Homo sapiens: one gene and its partners. The protein of the gene in region 1 interacts with the protein of each later gene in a pairwise test. Each region holds a gene or a part of one and is shown on either strand. Other genes may lie near its edges.

Evidence for each region. Proteins that work in one complex are often made in the same cells at the same time.
Region 2: the proteins of KRT40 (region 1) and TXN2 interact in binary tests that used the Homo sapiens proteins (3 or more experiments, as listed by UniProt).
Region 3: the proteins of KRT40 (region 1) and DDX6 interact in binary tests that used the Homo sapiens proteins (3 or more experiments, as listed by UniProt).
Region 4: the proteins of KRT40 (region 1) and DOCK2 interact in binary tests that used the Homo sapiens proteins (3 or more experiments, as listed by UniProt).

The regions. Positions count from the first base shown.
Region 1 is NC_000017.11:40,975,364-40,981,326, forward strand, and holds the end of KRT40 (keratin, type I cytoskeletal 40), read right to left. Parts: exon of another isoform or gene 5,962-5,963; coding exon of another isoform or gene 5,938-5,961; exon of another isoform or gene 5,789-5,937; coding exon 5,627-5,788; exon of another isoform or gene 5,548-5,626; coding exon 5,422-5,547; exon of another isoform or gene 3,662-5,421; coding exon 3,441-3,661; intron 2,934-3,440; coding exon 2,834-2,933; 3' UTR 2,352-2,833; downstream 1-2,351. UniProt on the Homo sapiens protein: May play a role in late hair differentiation.
Region 2 is NC_000022.11:36,465,304-36,469,702, forward strand, and holds the end of TXN2 (thioredoxin, mitochondrial precursor), read right to left. Parts: intron 2,615-4,399; coding exon 2,501-2,614; 3' UTR 1,743-2,500; downstream 1-1,742.
Region 3 is NC_000011.10:118,748,972-118,753,773, reverse strand, and holds part of DDX6 (probable ATP-dependent RNA helicase DDX6), read left to right. Parts: intron 1-1,676; 3' UTR 1,677-4,802.
Region 4 is NC_000005.10:169,643,166-169,648,516, forward strand, and holds part of DOCK2 (dedicator of cytokinesis protein 2), read left to right. Parts: intron 1-5,351. UniProt on the Homo sapiens protein: Involved in cytoskeletal rearrangements required for lymphocyte migration in response of chemokines. Activates RAC1 and RAC2, but not CDC42, by functioning as a guanine nucleotide exchange factor (GEF), which exchanges bound GDP for free GTP.

The sequences.
Region 1 (5,963 bases):
TTCAAATGTTTTTGGCTTCACTTTTTCTCCTCCCTTACAGAACTCCACTGACATGAATGTTAGATCGTTTGATATAGCCCCAAAATTCCCTGAGACTCTATCTTTTTAACACTATTTTTTTTCCGTTTTTCAGGTCGGATGATGTCTATTATTGTATCATCAAATTCCCTGATGTTTTCCTCTCTGGCCTGCATTCTGCTGTTAAGCCCATCTCCATTGAGGTTTCTATTTTGGTTCTATGGTATGTTTCAGTTCTGAAATTTCCACTGGAGTCTTTCCATCTTCTTCATTGAGTCTTCTCTATTTTTGCATTTGTTGTAAGAGTTTATTGAAGCATTGCTTACTGAAGCATTTTTATGATGACTATTTAAAAATCATTGTCAATAAGTAAAATAGTGTAACTGGATGTTTGTAACACCAAAGATACATGCTTGAGGGGATGGACACCCCATTCTCCATGTGATTATTACACATTGCATGCCTGTGTCAAATCATCTCATGTACCCCATAAATATATACATCTATGTACCCAGAAAAATAACAAATAAAAAGTTAAAAACCCTTGTCAGTTAATTCTAACGTCTTTTTCCTCTTGATGTTTGAATTTGTTGATCATCTTTTTTCCTGTAAGTTGAGATTTTATGATCCTTGGTATAAAGAGCAATTGTTGATTGAAACCTGGACATTGGGGCATTATGTTATGAGATTCAGGATACTGTTTAATCTTATGTTCTAGCAGGTCTCCTCTGACACTGTTTTGGCAGGGGAAGGGGGACACTGCTTCATTCCTACCAGGTGGGAGTAGAAATACAGGTTCTCTCCACTTTGCCCCTATTGACACCCAAGGGGAGAGCCCCCCTCATCACTGCTGGGAGGGAGGATTTTAGACTCCTTACCTGGCCTCTGCTGATACCACCCTGGCCAGGAGGGGCAGGAATATCTTGTTATTGCTCCCATGCAGCTTCCACTGACACTGCATGGGGGTGGCCTTGGTACTGCTGGAGGAGGGAAAGAGTTCTGACTGTCCAGTAGGACTCTTGTGACACTAACCCCAGAGGAGAAAAGAAGAGCCTCACTGCAGCCTGTAGAGTTAAGTCCAGGCTTCCCGTGTGGTCTCCACTGATACCATGATGGTGGGACAGGGAGTGCTTCCATGTCTCATAGTAGGAATGAAAGTCCTGGATCTCTCACTTAGCCTTCCCTGATTCCACCCCAGTGGTGAAGTTTGAGTGCCTTATTACAGCCTGGGAAGGATAGAAGTCTGGACTCCCCACCTGGCCTTTCCTTGTGTGGATATGGGTGGGTGAAATGATATTTTCTGTGGTGTTTGGCTGAGTTGAGTGGTTATTGTCTAAAGGTTTTCCGCCTTTCTAGGCTGCCTCTTTTCTGGTTCTTTAAGCAGAGCAAGCTCTTTCTGTTTGTTTGTTTGTTTGTTTTGTCTGCACCTGTTGGTGTTTCTGGTTGTTGGTTTCTCCAGCTCCCCCTCTGGGATATATGAGATAAAAAGCTAATCCAGGGAGCTCACCACAGTGTCACTCCTGGAGTCTCAACATCTTTAGGTGGTTTGGCTTCTTCTTCTACCTTTCAGAGTCCTCTTATGTTTATTTGATATGTAATTTCCAGGGTTTTTAGGAGGAGGAATATGGAAATATACATCATTCTGGAAGTTCTCTACCTTGTTTTTTAAATATATGAGAATAATTATTCTTATAACCTAAATGTCCAATAACAGATCAATGTACCTTATGGTACATTATGCAACCAGTAAAATGATGGCTACAGGCTGGGTGCAGTGGCTCACACCTGTAATCCCAGCACTTTGGGAGGCTGAAGCTGGTGGATCACAAGGTCAAGAGATTGAGACCATCCTGGCTAACACGGTGAAACCCTGTCTCTACTAAAAAAAAAAAAAAATTAGCCTGGTGTGGTGGCAGACACCTGTAGTCCCAGCTACTTGGGAGGCTGAGGCAGGAGAATCGCTTGAACCCAGGAGGCAGAGGTTGCAGTGAGCCCAGATAGTGTGACTACACTCCAGCCTGGGTGACACAGCAAGACTCTGTCTCAAAAAAAAAATAAAAAATAAAAAAAGTGATGGCTACAATACAATCTTATGTTTTTATTAGAATTAAAAATGCTTAGATGACATAAATGAAAGAAAGTTTACACAAGTGTGTGCATATGTTAGTATGATTATAGCTGTGTGGAAAAATCTATTATAAGAAAGAAAACTGGAAGAAAGTACCCCAAAATATTGACTATGGCTGTTTGGAAGATGAAATCATAAGTGACCTTTTCCCTTTTAATGAGCCAAATTTAAAAAAAGAGAATCTAGTACTTTTATAATCAAAAAATACATTTTATCATATTTTATTCCTAATATTTTTCCTCAGAAAGATACACACAACTATTTTCTAAGATATATGACATTTCTCATGGGTTCATTAATTTATTTGTATTTGAGGAGTTAAAAAATATTTTCAGCCTGGGTTTATGTACATTGAAACTATGGTTATGGGTTTAGATGATTTCCTTGCCATAAAATGAATATTCTATCAACAGTAATCAGCCATAGAGCTATATTTACCACGCTAAAGGAATAAAACACGTTTTATTTGGAGATGAGCAAGAATGCTTTATGGGCTTCCAGTATACCACAAATAAGCCGGAAGGAGAGGAAATAGTAAAGCAGAAAGACTGAGGATACCTGGAGGGCAATTCCAGGATATGAGAGCCTCCTGGATTTGTGCTTCCGGTTTGGATGTCCCTGGTTGAAGCCCCATCTCCTTTCTAGGATGCTGCTGGCTTTGATTCCTCTACCTGCTGTCCTTAACATTCACAAGCAGCAGTTTTCAACAGTGCAGATGACATAGGCTGAGCATGGCTCACAAGTGTTGCTCGAGGTGCATGTGGTCGAACATGGGCTACAGGAAAGCCTGGGGAAAAATCGATTTTCAACCAAGATTAACAAGGGAATGTTGATAAAATGGCAACTCAGAAAAACCGTGTCAAAATTTGCCCTACAAATTATGTTCTGAAAAAAACTCTGCACAATAGCATTGACTGAAGCCTGTTTCTTCTCTGCACCCAGAATTGCCACTTCATGTTCACTGTAGCAGTGGCAGTTGAATAGTATTTTATATTTTTTCTTGATTTTGCAAATGTTATCTTAGGCCTATTCCTGATTTTCCTTTAGTGGAAAACAGGAACAAAGGGAGATGCCAGCATGAAATGTTACACTAATAATTAATCTGCCTTTAGAATATTTTAAAAATATCTCTAGTGTCATGTTCTTAACCTCAGCCACTTTTCAGCACTTTTTTAAGAAGATCCCTAAACACACTGGGGAGGTCTGAACTTGTCCAGACTTTGGGGAAACAGGATTCTTTTACATCAGCCTCTTTGTGACTCTGGGGGATTTCATGAGTAACTGTGGAACTTGCCTGCTGTCCTCGCTGTCCAGCAGGCCCCAGTACGTGTTGATCTCACCCTCCAGCCGGGCCTTCACGTCCAGGAGCACCTGGTACTCCTGGTTCTGTCGCTCCAGGTCGCAGCGGATCTCGGCCAGCTGGTTCTCCAGGTTATCGATCAGACACTGAATTTGGGCCAGCTGGGAGCTGTACTGGGCCTCGGTTTCTGCCACGGTGCATTCCAGAGATTCTGTCTGCGGGAGGAAACATTGTCCAAAGGACCATGAAGTGCAGTCTCTCGGGCCAGAGTGCCTACTTTCAAATTCCTGCTTACCCTTTTCTAGCTATGTGACCACTGGCAAATTATTTAGCTTCTGTGAGTCTCAGTTTTATTCTCTGTATAGTGGAGAATACAAAGTATCTGTTTCATTAGACGGTTGTGAAGATTAAGAGTTAATATGCGGGCTGGGCGCGGTGGCTCAGGCCTGTAATCCCAGCACTTTGGGAGGCCGAGGCGGGCGGATCACAAGGTCAGAAGATCGAGACCATCCTGGCTAACACGGTGAAACCCCGTCTCTACTAAAAATATAAAAAATTAGCTGGGTACGGTGGTGGACGCCTGTAGTCCCAGCTACTCAGGAGAATGGTGTGAACCCGGGAGGCAAAGCTTGCAGTAAGTCAAGATCATGCCATTGCACTCCAGCCTGGGCGACAGAGGGAGACTCCGTCCAAAAAAAAAAAAAAAGAGTTAATGTGCGTAAAGCATTTAGAACAGTGCCAGCCATACTGCCACTGTTCTACGTGTCAACTATCACTACCACCACTATGACTACAGCAATACATGACATATTTGTGAAGCTTAAGGACTATCCACAACATATGAGAGGAAAGATTGAGTTTGGGCTCTTGGCAGGGAGGGGTAGTATAGTGCTATTAAGAGAAGAGGCTCTGGATACCAGAGGCTGGGACTGGCATATGTGTGGTAAGGGGATGAAGAGAGGTTGGTTAATGGGTGCAAACATACAGTTAGACAGAAAGAATATGTTTTCATGTTGGACAGCAGAGAAGTGTGACTACAGTTAACAACAATACACTGTGCATTTCAAAATAGCTAGATGGGAGGACTTGAAATGCTCCCAACACATAGAAATGATAAATACTTGAGGTGATGGATGCTCTAAATATCCTGACTTGATCATTACACATTCTATGCATGTAACAAAATATCACATCTACGTAAAAAAAATTTACGCATATTATATATCAATAAAAATAAATTTAAAAAGAGAGAGAGAAGAGACTCTGGGATTCAACTGGCTGAACTCAGCTTCCAAGTTTGCCTCTTAGAATTGCATCCTTTGCAAGTTACTTAATCTGAGTCTCAGTTTTCCTTATCTGTGTCATGGGATAAAGGTATCTATCCGGTAAAGTTACTGTGAGCCTTAAATCAGCATAGTGCCTCTCACAGGATGAATGCTCAGCTATTGTTCTTCTAGGTGTTCTCCGCAGGGCCTAATGACATGCACACAGTGGTGCTTGACCAGAACTGGTTCATGTCATCTTGAACGCATGGTGTTCCTGTTGCTTGAGTGGGGGGTGGTGCAGTGAAGGATAAGGTTGAAGTGTAGATCCTGGGAAACTGTAGGATGAAATGTTTGAAAATGATTCTTTGTTTTAGATATAACAGTGAGCCTGGAAAACTGGCCTGAATCAAATGAGAATTAAAACCTGCCAGAATGCTTAAGCGACCATGGCCCGGAGGTTTCTCTCCAGCTCTGCTTCTCCCTCCCTGTCTCTGGAGGCTGCTGCAGCATCAGACTCAAGCCCAGGAGTGAAGGTAAGGCATCTTAGAGGACAAGCTGTGGACCTGTCACTTCTGCTTCTATTAATAGCTGGGTAAACGGCAGTACTCGGGAAAGGCAAGGAAATGTGATCCTCGGATATGGAAGAGGGCTTAACATCTCAGGGCCTGACTTATCAGTGACACAACGGACACTGCCTTTGCCTCACGCACCAGGCTTTGCTGTGCTTGGAGCTCAATTTCCAGAGCACTGGCTGTGCGTTTCAGTTCCAAGATCTCCATCTGGCAGCCCTGCAGCTGCTCCGCGCTGGACAGTTGCTGCTGATTCAGCTCTTCTGTCTGAAACACAGACACCATTAGAGAATTCAAAAAAGGCAGAAGTCTGTAAGCCTGACATTTTTTCAATCTGGGTACTGACCTGAACAGCCAACCATTCTTCAGCTTCTCTGCGATTGTTGGCAAGCACCGTTTCACACTGACAGCGCATCTCATCCAGGACCCTGTTGAGGTCAAGGGTGGGGGCAGTGTCCAGCTCCACACTGAGGCGGTCGCCAAGCTGTTCACGAAGCAAGTTGACTTCCTGAAAGTGGGATGGTGTAAAGAATGTCACAGAATGGTGGGGAAAAATCCATTTGACATCCAATGGCATTCTACTTCTGTTTTTTGGAGCAGTGGGTAAAAGTGTGAGATTTTGATTCAGATTGCCTGGGCTGAATCTCTTTTCACCACTTAGAAGGGCCTCAGTTTCTTCGTCT
Region 2 (4,399 bases), on another chromosome or scaffold:
CAGGATCACCAGGAGGATTCCGTGAGCACAGCCAGCATGACTCACGGCCATGATCAGCCTCACGGGCAGAGGCTGCCAACCTGGGATGGCCACAGCCACCGGCTCACCTTGCAGGGCAACGCACCTTTTAAGGAGGGAGCTGGAGCAGCGCCCGGGTCCTGCCTCTGGCCAAGGCCTCTGCCACACTTCTCCACGCCCACCCGGGCAGAGAGGCCAGACCCCCACTGGGTTCAAATTTGGCACCACTTTTCAGACATGACCTTGGGCAAGTCGATTTCTCTGAACTGTTTTTTTCACTTATGATATGGAAATAATACTTGCCTCACAAGAGTGGAATTCGATGAGGTAATGTGTTTAGAAAGTGCGTGGCAAACGGTGCCTTTTAAGGAGCGGCAGTGGGGTCCGGTGGAAAGGGCCAGGGCTCGGGAGTCGAGGCGCCCCAGCATTGTGCTCTGGCCCCACCCTGGGCTCACTGGGTGTCTTTGAAAGAGTTACTCAACCTCCGATCTGCTCTGCTCCCACTGTGTCAAATGAGCTGACACCACTTGCCTTGTTGCCTGTTGTGAGATGAAGATCACACACACGCCACCTTCTATCAGATGACAGGAGGCAGCGAGGGTGGTTCCTGGGGGTGGGTGTGGAAGGCTGCCTGGCCTTGAATCCCAGCTCAGCCACTCAGGGGCTTTGTGACCTGGGGAAGGCTCCTCAACCTCTCGGGGCAGGTCTCAGGTGGAATCTGAAGGGCAACGCCTTCCCGCGGGGCTGTGCTGAGCTGAGACCCTCAAAACAGTGCCAGGTACCTGGGAGGTGCCTCCTGAGTCTGGGCAGGTCCTGCTCATCTTAACCAGGGCTTTTGGCCTTTGCAGGATGTTCACTCCACCAGCTTCCGTCTCCACTGACGCCAGTTGCTGGTTTTGTCCCCTCCATGTGCTTGTGACAGACCCCAGGGTCTGGGGTCCTTCAGAGGCCACGGGCCCCTCTCCTCCCTCGGTCTCGGCAGCCTTCCCAAGGCAGTCCTTGGGTGGGCCCCTGGAGAATGCAGACAGTTCTAATAGAACAGGGTGAGCCTCTGAGAACAGAGCAATACCAGCCCCATGGCATCCCTGGGGCCACGGAGTAGGGTGTCAGGATCCCCCTGCCGCCAAGCACCTGATTCACAGGAAGCTGGGGCCTCATCCAGGCAACCGAGCCCTAATGACAGCTTGGCCCTAGGAGCAAGGCAGACGGAAGGAAGGCTTTCTTGACTGGCAAGCCTGGCTCCCTTGGCACACTCCTCTATGGCCAAGGGGAGCTGGGGGCCAAGAGGGGTTGTCTGGTCCCAAGGCCCAGAAGTTCCTGCAGGCACCCATGGGAAGGATAGCCTGATCCCCACAGGGCCAGGCACCTGCTGGGGCAGCCAGGAGCCCTGTCAGTTGGGGAGGCCTCAGAAGGGTCAAGGGGATCAGCTGTGGGAGCCCAGGTTTCAGAGGCAACCACGTCTGGATAGAAACCCCAGCTCTGCATCCCATGAGCCACAGTGTCTACATCGGGGTAATGGGGACAACAGCCTCTTGCCTTAGGAGGGCACGAGGACTGGCACATGGCATCCTTAGAATAGCAGCCACTGCTGACAAGCATGTTAGTGAACAGGAAGGGCTGGTTGGAGAGAGTGTTGTGGAGTTAGGGGAGGATGTGGGGACAGTGGACAAGCCCCCTGGGAAAGGGTGACAAGTGCTCTGAGCCCACACAGATGTGACATTGCAGATGGTGCAGACCCTTGCTTTATTTGTCTGACTTGTTCACAGTTCAGCCCCCTGCTCAGAAAACCAACGGGCCAGCTAAGGAGAGGAGGAGGCACCTTGAGACTTCCGGAGTCGAGGCTCTCCAGGGTTCCCCAGCCCATCAATCATTTTCTGCACCCCCTGCCTGGGAGGCAGCTCCCTGGGGGGTGGGAATGGGTGACTAGAGGGGATTTCAGTGTGGGACCCAGGGTCTGTTCTTCACAGTAGGAGGTGGAAGGGATGACTAAGTTCTTTATCACAGACCTACAAAAAATGAGATAATTAGATATTACTCTCACTAGTTTGGGCTTCTTTTTTCTTTTTCTTTTTACAAAACAGCAGCTGGAAAGAGAAATGTAGGTGGCAGACGAGCCAGGCACGAGGTTTCAGATTGGAAGGGACCAAGATGAGGACCAAGGTGTGGCTGCCTGACTAGGAACGCTGTGGGCTGGCCCAGGCTCTCGCCACACATCCTGGGAGAACTGCCATAGGCCCTAGAAGGAGGGATGAAAGGCGTATGGGAGGGAAGACAGCGGTCCCCGGATCAGCAGCAGCACCACCATCCTCTGATGGCCCCTGGGCAGTCCGCCAGCTCGGAAGCACTCAGGGCTGGAGCCTGGGCTCTAAGCATGGGCCCCAGGAGCCAGACAGGAGGGAGGCAGCAGGAAGGGCTGGCATGGAAGGGCTGAGTTCTATTGGGGTCCCACGCGGGCAAGGGAACCAGGACTCATCCCTGCTTGTCAGCCAATCAGCTTCTTCAGGAAGGCCTCCAACTGATCCTCATCCTTGATGCCCACAAACTTGTCCACCACGTCCCCATTCTTCATGGCCAGCACAGTGGGCACCGCTGACACCTGGGTGGAGAGGACAAGGGGGTCCAAGTGAATTGGGAGTGAATACTTCTCAACTGCCACTCCTGAGCCTTTGTGGGGAAGGCTGGTGGCTTATCCAGGGCACTGACTTCCCAAAGCCATGGGCAGGCCTAGAGGAACATGGCTCTTCTCTCGGTGCAGGGGTACTGCAGGGCCCGGGGGCCACCCGCTGAAGAAACGTCTTCCATTGCGGGCTCCCAACAGTACCCTTCCTCCCTTAACCACAAGACTGACTCACTGGCCCAGTGGTTTTGCTGGAATGACAGGAGAGATGAAAATAACCCTTGCAGCTGCAGGCCAGGGCTGGGGGCAGGGAGGAGCTCAGGGGAAGCCTGGCCCAGGAGGAGACAGAAGCTGGGGGACAGTTCGAGTCCTGGCTTTGCACTCACTAGCAAGGGGGCCTTGGCCGGGTCACAGCACCTTTCTGAGCCTCAGTGTCCTTTTCCATAAAATGGGGGTAATGTCTACCTTTAGGGTTTGGGATGAACATTAAAGATTCAAGTATAGGCTGGGCACAGTGGCTTATATCTATAATCCCAGCCTTCTGGGAGACTGAGGCTGGAGGATTGCTTGAGTTCAAGAGTTCCAGACCAGCTTGGGCAATATAGTGAGACCCTTTGTTTACTAAACCCCCCCAAAATATTAGCCAGGCATGGTGGTACATGCCTGTACTCCCATACTCGGGAGGCTGAGGCAGGAGGATCGCTTGAGCCTGGGAGACTGAGGCTTCAGTGAGCTGTGATTGTGCCACTGCACTCCAGCCTGGGTGACAGAGACCCTGCCTCAAAAAAAAAGAGAAAGATTTGAGTATAAAGCAGAGCTCAGGCTGGGCGCGGTGGCTCACACCTGTAATCCCAGCATTTTGGGAGGCTGAGGTGGGCAGATCATTTGAGGTCAGGAGTTCGAGACCAGCCTGGCCAACATGGTGAAACCCTGTCTCTACTGAAAATACAAAAATTAGTCGGGCATGGTGGCAGGCACCTGTAATCCCACCTACTTGGGAGGCTGAGGTGAGAGAATTGCTTGAACCTGGGAGGTGGAGGCTGGAGTCAGTGGAGATTGCACCACTGCACTCCAGCCTGGGTGACAGAGTGAGACTCCATCTCATAAATAAATAAATAAATAAATAAATAAATACATAAATAAAGCAGAGCTCAGGTTCTGGCGGACGCAATCCGGCTCCTACCAGCCAGGTGAGCTGGGGCACGCCCCTCAGTCACTAAGCCTCAGTGTTCTCAGATGCAGGATGGAGATACTAAGGGCACTGCCATTAGAGGGCATGAAAGCTGAATGAAATAACGCAAGTAAAGGCTCAGCACAGCGCCCGGCAAATAAGCTTAGGAACCTGGCATTGTGCCTGGCATACTGTGGGCATTCAAAAAACAGTGGCTACAGAGGGCACAAGGAAAAGTCCAACACAGGCCCCACGAGAGCACATTAGCTTGCTGCTGTGATGAGTGACAGGGTCCAGAAACTCAGGGACTTCTACTGGACAGCATGAGAGGAGAGGCTTGGCCATACACAACCTGACGCTTATTAGCAGGTTGCAGGCAGATGGCAAGGACAACATTCTTGGTCTGTGAAGCATTTACTCAGTTCCCTCAGGGACCTGCATAGGTTATGTGGAACGTGGATGAGGCTGTGGCCCACCAGACTGGCATTGTGAGGTCTCTGCTGCCTGGGATCCCTGCCTGGCATTCGTGGGCATTTGAGAAAACCATTTAAACAGAACAAGATAGGCCGGTCGCTGTGGCTCACGCCTGTAAT
Region 3 (4,802 bases), on another chromosome or scaffold:
TGTAAAATGTTTTTAGCATTTACTCTTAATTTCTAGTAAGTACATTAATCACTCTGATAAAACTATCCATAATACCTTATTAGCAAATGTTTAATCAGATTATGAGGATGGCCATCTTTTTAAAATACCCACTCTGGGCCGGGTGCGGTGGCTCACACCTGTAATCCCAGTACTTTGGGAGGCCGAGGTGGGCGGATCACGAGGTCAAGAGATCGAGACCATCCTGGCCAACATGGTGAAACCCTGTCTCTACTAAAAATACAAAAATTAGCCGGGCATGGTGACACGCACCTGTAGTCCCAGCTACTCGGGAGGCTGAGGCAGGCGAATCACTTGAACCTGGGAGGTGGAGGTTACAGTGAGCTGAGACCGCACCACTGCACTCCAGCCTGGGTGACAAAGCTAGACTCCATCTCAAAAAAAAAAAAAAAAAAAAAGCCACTTGGGCTGGCTCAGTGGCTCACACCTGTAATCCCAGCACTTTGGGAGGCCGAGGTGGGTGGATTACCTGAGGTCAGGACTTCAAGACCAGCCTGGCCAACCTGGTGAGACCCCGTGTCCACTAAAGATACAGAAAATTAGCCAGGCATGGTGGCGGGCGCCTGTAATCCCAGCTAGTCAGGAGGCTGAGGCAGGAGAATCTCTTGAACCTGGGAGGCAGAGGTTGCAGTGAGCCGAGGTCATGCCATTGCACTCGAGCCTGGGCGATAAGAGTGAAACTCTGCCTCATATATAAATAACCCACTCTGATTTCCTAGGTAATAAGAGTGAAACTCCGTCAAATACATAAATAAAATACCCACTCTGATTTCCTGGACAACCTGTCTTCCCATCTTTTTTTTATTTTTATTAAGATGGGATCTCACTATGTTGCCCCGGCTGGTTTCAAACTCCTGGGTTCAAATGATCCTCCCACTTTGGCTTCCCAGAGTGCTGGGATTATAGGTGTGAGCCACCACGCCCTGCCTCTATCATCTTTTGGTGACTATTGGGCTCTAGTTAGAAATGCATGAAACAAGGCTCAGCTTTAAGCAAGGTAGGTTGTTTCAGTATTTCCTAAAGAAAATCTGATTTGACAAAGGATAGTTTCCAAGTTATAGGTGAACATCTTACCTATTTAAGTAACCTAATGTTACTTAAATTTTTTTTCTCTTTCTTTTTTAAATAGAGACGAGGATTTACCATGTTGGCCAGGCTGGTCTCAAACTCCTGACCTCAGGTGATCCGCCCACCTCAGCCTCCCAGAGTGCTGAGATTACTGGCAGGAGCCACCTCACCCAACCAATTGTTACTTAAATAATTTTTAAATTACTCTGTACTCTTTTTTTCCTTAAGTTAAACATCAAACACAAACTCTTGGACAAGCATGAAACTAGCCAATGTTTGCTAGTACTTTGGCAGAGTATTCAGTTTGTGTAAGGTTAATTTTTTTCCCCCGGATTTGTTACGAGTGAGGGCTGCCTGCTATCAGAACATTCACATTCATTCAGGCCCCCAATCTATCTCAGGGTTGCCTACCAGAAATTATTTAATCCTATAACCAGTAGATTCTATAGTAGGCACAGGGTTAGTAGAAACTACTAGAAAAGAGCATTTGGGATGAGGATTGTGAAAACCTATGTATCCTAGTTTGTGTTGCTTTCAGAATGTTAATTTTGTATTCTCTTCTTCTGTAGGCTTTGACAAATTACAAAAGGCTCGTTTGGATCTGTGACACATCGTTTTGGGGGGAATGCTCCTCTCTTTGTGGGTTTTTCATCTTTTATTTTGGAACTATGAAGACTTAAAAGAGCTCAGACATTTTCTTTTTTTAACTGGTGAAGAGAAAAAGGCTGAAAAGAAGGAATATACCTTTTTTGTTCCACTTGTTTGCACTGTGTGCTGACTGAACATTAGTTGCACTAACTGCTGGTTTTTAAAAAATGTTTTCTGGGGAAAGGGGACAAGGAAGGAAAAGAAAGAAGAGAAGGGGAGAAACCCTAAAAAGAGAAGAATCTTAATGAACACACAAGCTTGTCAATGATTTCAAAATTCTCCAACAGCTGACTCTCGTGCATTTCAACTTCTCCCTGATTCCTCATCCGTTTTTTAAGCCTGAAGAGCTTATTACTTATTTGTGCGAAGTGCCTTATGCTATGAGACCATTCAGAATATCATCTTTTAGACACAGCCCGAGGAATCAACAATAGTAACTCTTTCTTTCCGTTTTTTTTTCTTTTTCTTTTAAAAAATGTCTTCTTATTTTGGTTTCAGGTTGAAGTCTCTTCCCTTTCTACCCAGTACTCGAGCCCAGGGCTAGAAGTTGAAACTCACTAGTAATGTTAAACACCATTTTTTTTTTCTTTTTGGGGAGGAGTTGATATGCAACTGCAGTTCATCCGCACTGTAAATACATGTATTTAAAAAAACAATCCCAAGTAAAAATTTCTTCTGGGCTGAGTAGATAAAAAACATCATCGCTCCCAAAGGAAAGAGCAGTCTATCATTGCAGGAGCCATATGACAAGCCTTTGTGCTCTATAGCAGACACTAAAGACTGGGTTACATATGCCTCCAGTAGTAGTATGGCACTTGATGTGTAGACATGTCAGAGCCTTGGCCCTCTTTCCTCTGTGGCAAAGCGTGTCCCATAGAAAATTGGGTGTGTATACTTGTATAACTTTGTAAATAAGTTTTTTTTCTGGGTTCATATATATATATATATATACATATATATATATTTTTTTTTGGATGAAGGTTGCTGGGATTAAGGGGATTAGAGTGATTATGGGAGCAGCTAAAGATGAGAGGGGCTCAGTTTTACGCAACACTAAATTCTAGAAAGTACTTTGGCCTCGTGCTGTAGAGAGCAGATTTCTATGGTACCCTGTGTTAGTAAAGGGGCCCAGAAATCTGGGATGTACTGTTTGCTGCCACACTGTCTCATCTAGTACCTTTGGAGTAGGTTTACCAGAGAGAGCAAGGAAGCTTCAAAACATTGATAATTCAACATTTATTTTGAGAAGCTCTGATTTTGCTTCTTCCCCCTTTCTAAAAGTTTGAGGAATATTTCAAGCTCTGCAACAGGGGGCAAAGATTAATCTACCTTGCAGTGTAGGAATTCTATTGAGTGGCAGTGTCATTGAGCAGTATATATATAAAGCACAGATTTGCATTTCAGAATATTAGCCAGTACCAGCTTTGGTAATGTTAGCAGTTCTGGAGCTTAATTTTCTGTGGATCATTTCCTGTAGTGTGTAAATGTGTTGCCCTCTGCCCGCTTTGATACATAAACTTTTGCAGGAATGGGCAACCTGAGAGCTGTTAACTTTCATGCTACAGAAAGCTGCTTGCCATTCTCTTGCATTGTGACAAGAATTGTTACCTGTCATTTTGCACTGTAAATTGCTGGCAGATGCTTTACAGTCAATAGTGTTGCTTTAAATTGTGCCCCTCCCAACATGCTTGATGTTTGGCCTGATCTCCAGGCAAAAGGAGTGAGATGAATCAAAACCAGTGAACTTTTTTTTTTAATGTTTTTAATTCCCTTTTAACCCAGTGTACTAGGTCAATCAGGAGGCATCTGGAAAGGGGGGGAAAAAAGCAAAAAACAAAATTAAAAAAAATTGATTTCCATATTTTATTTTTCAAAACCCTAAAATATTACAAAATAAGTCCCGCATATACTTTAATGTTTTAACTCTTTTGGACAAAGGAATCAATTACTTGAAGTTGCTTTTTTGACTCTGCCTACTTCTGAGCAAACTATTTGCGACTCACCCACAATTCCTTGGAGATCAAAATCCTACAGATGCCTCCTGATGGGACATAGCCCTAACTCCTTAACAACTGTAGCAAGAACTGCACGGTACAAACCCAAAAAAGAACAAGCTCATCTATTTGGAACCCAAGCCTCATATTTTCTGTCCAGTCAATGTTGGTTACTAAATAGAAAACCTAATTAAGGAAGTAACTTTTTTCCAGGGAGGGGTGGGAGAGGGAATTTAAAAGGTGTCAACTTTTGACCAAAAAAATTGTGCCCTTGTACCGATGCAGCTCTCTTTCTCCCCCACCTCTTGCGAGATAAGAGGGATCATTCATGTAGAAGAAAAGAGTATAAATGCAATTCTGTATCTCGCTAGAGAACGTGTGGGTGACTAAACAAAAAGTGCAGTCTCCTTCACCAACTTTAGACTGCGTGGTGCCACATGCCTGTGGGTCCCTCTTAAAGCACAGACTTAAAATGGAAAGTATTACTGAAGTATAGCCTCTAATGAGGAGTGGCACTTAAACTATCTGGGACACCACTACTGGACACGGTCTTGTAGAGGCAGCTGTCCAGTTTTGGTGCTTGACTCTTGAATAGGAATTGTTAAATGGAAAGATGCTCTGAGGACTAGGTCAAAGCCTGGTCTTTTTTTTTTTTTTTTTTTTTTTCTTTCTTTTTTGGGCCCTCATAATAAGCATTGTTACTATTGGAAGTTGTTTTCACATTCTTTCCAATATTAAATATGTATTTTTTTAAGTAATGATAATATTTTCCAGTGGCTCATTTGGATGAGAACTACCCTCTATTTTTAATATTAAAACTACATCCAACTCATCATTTAGCCTTTGGTTGTACAGTTGTGTAATGGGCTATGGACTGTTACACACCTTACCACCTCTAGGCCTATGTTTTTTCTTTCCCCATATATTCTGATGGGGATAAATACTGTTTTGCCTCTCCCATAGGAATGGAATACATTTATTCTAAAATGATCTTTCACAGAAGTAAGAGAGAGGGAAACCTAAATATACCTCTAAATTGTTTGAAGTTGGTCC
Region 4 (5,351 bases), on another chromosome or scaffold:
TAAGTCTTATTCTGTTGTTAGTTCTCCTTGGAGAAAGTCATTCCTTGTCTCCCTGCACCCCACCAGGTCAGCTTCTGCTTTGGTTTAAAGTCATGGTGGCAGAAACTGAGGCTGGAGAAAGTATGACCGCCAATGTGGACACTTTCCAGAGCCCTCTCCGTTCATCACTCTAGGGCAGTGGTCTGCAACCTTTTCAGCACCAGGGCTGGTTTGGTGGAAGACAATTTTTCCACAGACTGATGGGGAGGTGGGGCGGGGCGGGAGGGATGGTTTCGGGATGAAGCTGTTCCACTTCAGATCATGAGGCATTAATTAGATTCTCATAAGGAGCATACAACCCAGATCCCTCGCGTGTGCAGGTCACAATAGGGTTCCTGCTCCTGTGAGAATCGAATGCCCCTGCTGATCTGACAGGAGGCAGAGCTCAGGCTAATGCTGGATTGCCTGCTGCTCACCTCCTGCTCTGCAGCCCGGTTCCTAACAGGCCACCAACCAGTACCGGTCGGTGGCCTGGGGAGTTGGGGACCCCTGTTCTAGGGCACTCAGTTCCCCTGACTGCACACGGCCCCTTGGATCACAGCCTAAGCTAAGATGATGGTTGGAGACATAGGTGGACAGTATGACGTGCACACTGTCACGGCACAGGGTCTGAATGGGGTAATAGGCATTTGTTTGGTTGAATTAAATGGTGCAATGCCAGGCCTAGAGACACCCTGACTGACATGGTGGGCTGCAGCAGCAGGGCCATCCCAGTGTCAGCTGAACCTTGAGGGTTTGCCTGGAAAGTGGGTTTTTGCTGCTGGCTTCCCTGGCGGTGGCAGTCAGGGAAGGACCCTTCTAAGTAGAACGAATAGCCAATATAAAGAGGAGGAAGCCTCTCTGATGTGTGGGAGGCCAGTGTGGCTGCAGTAGAGTAAGCAAGATGCAAAGCAGTAAGGAATGGATTCTCTGAGAGAGGTCATAGGGAGCAGTGCCTCGTAGGTATTGTGAGGTCCTTGGCTTTTACTCTGAATGGGGGAGGGGGACATTGCAGGATTTGGAGTAGAATTGTAGGACGACCTGTCTTAAGTTTTAAGAGGATTGAACATAGCAGTTTTATGGTGCATTAATCAGGGGGAATTAAATGTGGAAGGAGAGGGACCAGTTAGGCAGCAACAGTGATAACTCAGGCCAAGAGATGGCGGTGGCTTGCAGCAGGAGGGAGCAGTGGAGACAGTGAGATATGCTTAGATTCGGGATGTATGTGTTGTAGGTCAAGCAAATGGGGTTTTCCTCTTGGAATGGATGTGGGTATGAGAAGGAGAGAGGAGCCAGTGGTGACTCCGAGGTTTCTGGTCTGAATAGCTAGAAGAATGAGGGCTGCATCGAGGCCTTCCCTAGTGAAAACCTTGATCTAAGTAGTCATCGACATTGGCATAAATCATGCCATTGCCTTACCTTTTGTACCACGGTACTTTTTTTTTTTTTTTTAATTTTACTGACAGTTCTGGGATACAAGTGCAGAACATGCAGGTTTGTTACGTAGGTATACATGTGCCATGGTGGTTTGCTGCACCTATCTTCCCGTCATCTAGGTTTTAAGCCCCATATGCATTAGCTATTTGTCCTAATGCTCTCCCTTCCTTGCAACTCCCCCACCCCCTGACAGGCCCCAGTGTGTGATGTTTCTCTCCCCGTGGCCATATGTTCTCATTGTTCAACTCCCACTTATGAGTGAGAACAGGCAGTGTTTGGTTTTCTGTTCCTGTGTTAGTTTGCTGAGAATGATGGCTTCCAGCTTTATCCCTGTCCCTGCAAAGGACATGATCTCATTTCTTTTTATGGCTGCATAGTATTCCATGGTATATATGTTGACATTTTCTTTATCCAATCTATCATTGATGGGCATTTGGGTTGGTTCCAAGTGTTTGTTGTTGTAAATAGTGCTGCGATAAACATACGTGTGCATATGTCTTTATAGTAGAATGATTTCTATTCCTTTGGGTATATACCTAGTAATGGGATTGCTGGGCCAAATGGTATTTCTCGTTCTAGATCCTTGAGGAATTGTTTTCCACAATAGTTGAACTAATTTACATTCCCACCAACAGTGTAAAAGTATTCTTATTTCTCCACAGCCTCACCAGCATCTATAGTTTCTTGACTTTTTAGTAATCGCCATTCTGACTGGCATGAGATGGTATCTCATTGTGCATTTCTCAGATGATCAGTGGTGTTGAGCGTTTTTTCATGTTTGTTGGCCACATAAATGTCTTCTTTCTAGAAGTGTCTGTTTATATCCTTTGTCCACATTTTGATGGGGTTGTTTGTTTCTTGTAAATTTGTTTAAGTTTCTTATAGATTCTGGATATTAGCCCTTTGTCAGATGAGTAGATTGCAAAAATTTTCTCCCATTCTGTAGGTTGCCTGTTCACTTTGATGATAGTTTCTTTTGCTGTGCAGAAACTCTTCAGTTTAATTAGATCCCATTTGTTAATTTTGGTTTTTGCTGCAATTGCTTTTGGTGTTTTTGTCATGAAGTCTTTGCCCATGCATATGTCCTGATTGGTATTGCCTAGGTTTTCTTCTAGGGTTTTAAATTTTTATTTATTTATTTTTTTGAGACAGAGTCTCACTCTGTCTCCCTGGCTGGAGTGCAGCGGAGCAATCTCGGCTCACTGCAAGCTCCACCTCCTGGGTTCACGCCATTCTCCTGCCTCAGCCTCCCGAGTAGCTGGGACTACACAGGAGCCCACCACCACGCCCGGCTAATTTTTTGTATTTTTAGTAGAGACGGGGTTTCACCGTGTTAGCCAGGAAGGTCTCGATCTCCTGACCTCATGATCCGCCCATCTCAGCCTCCCAAAGTGCTGGGATTACAGGCATGAGCCACCACGCCCAGCCTCTTCTAGGGTTTTTATGGTTTGGGATTTTACATTTAAGTTTGTAATCCATCTTGAGTTAATTTTCGTGTAAGATATAAGGAAGGGGTCCAGTTTCAGTTTTCCACATATGGCTGGCCAGTTTTCCCAGCACCATTTATTAAATAGGAGATCCTTATTCCATTGCTTCTTTTTGTCAGGTTTGTCGAAGATCAGGTGGTTGTAGATGCGTGGTGTTATTTCTGAGGTCTCTGTTCTGTTCCATTGGTCTATATATCTGTTTGAGTACCAGTCCCATAGCATGGTACATTTACAAAGCCCTTGTGTCATCATGTTTAGCCCTCACAGACACCCTAAGAAAAATAACTTCTGTCTTCATTTTGCAGGTGAGGAAACTGAGGCATAGATCTTTGAGGTCTCTCTGAAAATTCCCTCTATTTTATGGAAGTTGCCCCTTTTCACCTTGTCTTTTAGTTAGGTAACTGCATGTCATCTTCCCCACTAGCTGGTACATTGTTGGAGGGCAGAGCTGTATGGAGGGTTAACTTTGAGTCCATTCAGCATCACTGCAATAGCAGGAACGTGGTAGGTCAGAGAAACTAATCATTATTGTAGCATAGGTCCCATTGAGAATCCTGTGACCGCTAGAAACACACTTCTTCCCATTAAAATATGCACATGTGCAGTTCTGCATTGTAATGTCGCCAAAACTCATTCATGGAAGCCAGTTAAGGTCCCTGGCAAAATGTGCTTATTTTACTCTGTAACTATTTAGTAAACAAATACAATAGGTATAGCCAAAGCATTCTGCCTAAGGTTTGAATTCTTGAAGCCAGGAGCTTGTCAAGAGTCGGAAAACAATTCTTACAGTCTGTTCAGATCAATTAAGTTCAGTAAGCCTGTCCTGAGTGATGGTCCTTAGCTGGGTGTTTGGGCCCAGAGATGAATAAAACAGTTCGGGAAGCTTACAGTCCAGTCATAACCTCTCTTTCTGTATGAGGCAGCAGAGAGCACCATTATTAGTACTAATGTCCCCATTGGACAGGTTGGGGGCAGTGCCCCCTTTGCTTCATGTTACTAGAGCTGCCATCATCCCCTTCATACTTCCTTGCAGCCTCATGTTGAATGATCTGGGCACCTCTGTAGAATGCAAGCTCTATGATGGCAGGGCCATGTCTGTTGTTCTTCTTCAGCACAGAGCAGGTGCTCAGCGGCTGCTGATTGGATGGATGAAGAGGTGGATTCATAGGTGGATGGATAGTTGTTGATTAGATGGATGGGTGGGTAGATGGATGATAGATGGGTGAGTGGATGCATGGATGGGTGGGTGGGTAGATGAGTGGAGGGGGAGGAGGATGGGTAAAGGGTAAGAGTTGGAGGTTTTAAAATTTTCTGGTGGCCTTATAGGATTCAGATGGACTGAGTTGCCCCATCTTGCCTTTATCTTCCCACCTCATCCATTTCCCTGTCAGGAGGCGAGGTCCTGTGAGAGCACAGCACAGCAATAAATAGAGTACTCTTGAACTCGTCTCCAAACAGTGGACTCCTGCAGATGGTCACTCTACCAAGCTCACCAGTTCTCCCTGGGACTCCATTAAGATGGCCCTGCCATTCATCCCTCACACATCAAGCTGGTTTCCCCCCTCTCTTCCCTGCTGTCACACCCTCTCCCCACCTCCTTGGGGGCTCTCAGTCCAGTTCTTCCCCTTGCCAGTCTCTGCCCCTCCCTCTCCCTCCAGTCTCACTTCCTTAGTGGGGCCTCTTTTTCCCTCTGAGAGTCCACAGCTGCTGTGACTTGCAGTTTAGCCTTTCACTTCTGAAGACAGCTCTTTGTTTCTTGTGTGTTTATTTTGTCTCTTCGACTAGATTTCACAGAAGCTCAGGAGAGCAGGAGCCACCCCCTTTCACCCCACTTTTCTAGCTGCAGGATCCTGCAGAGTGCCAGACGCTCTCTGCATTTGGGGCTGGAGGGCTGATTTGATTGATTTCACCATAAACTCTCTTCCAACTCTGTAGTGTGTGTGTGCATGTGTGAGTGCAAGAGTGTGTGAGAATGTGTGTGTGAATGTGCCTATAGGAGTACTAGAATGGAGAGAGTGAAATCCAGCATGATGTTTCAGAGCAGGGTTTATCAACCTTGTCACTATTGACATTGTGGGCCAGGAAAATCTTTGTTATGGGGCTGTCCTGTGCACTGTAGGATGTTTAGCAGCATCTCTGGCCTCTAGTCACTAGAGGCTAGTAGCACTGACACCCCCGACTCCCCTCCCCCAGGTTGGGACAAGAAAAATGTCTCCAGACATCAACAAATGTCTCTTCTAGTGGGGCAAATTCGCTCCCAGTTGAGATCACTGTTTGAGAGAATTCACTGGAATCCTAACTTTCGTCTTGTCGGCTGGGCATGTCACTGGCTCGCTAAAAACTGTGCGCTACAATATGCAGCCCATAAGGTTGTTATCATGATCCAGCAAGAGGCCTAAAGCACCTGGC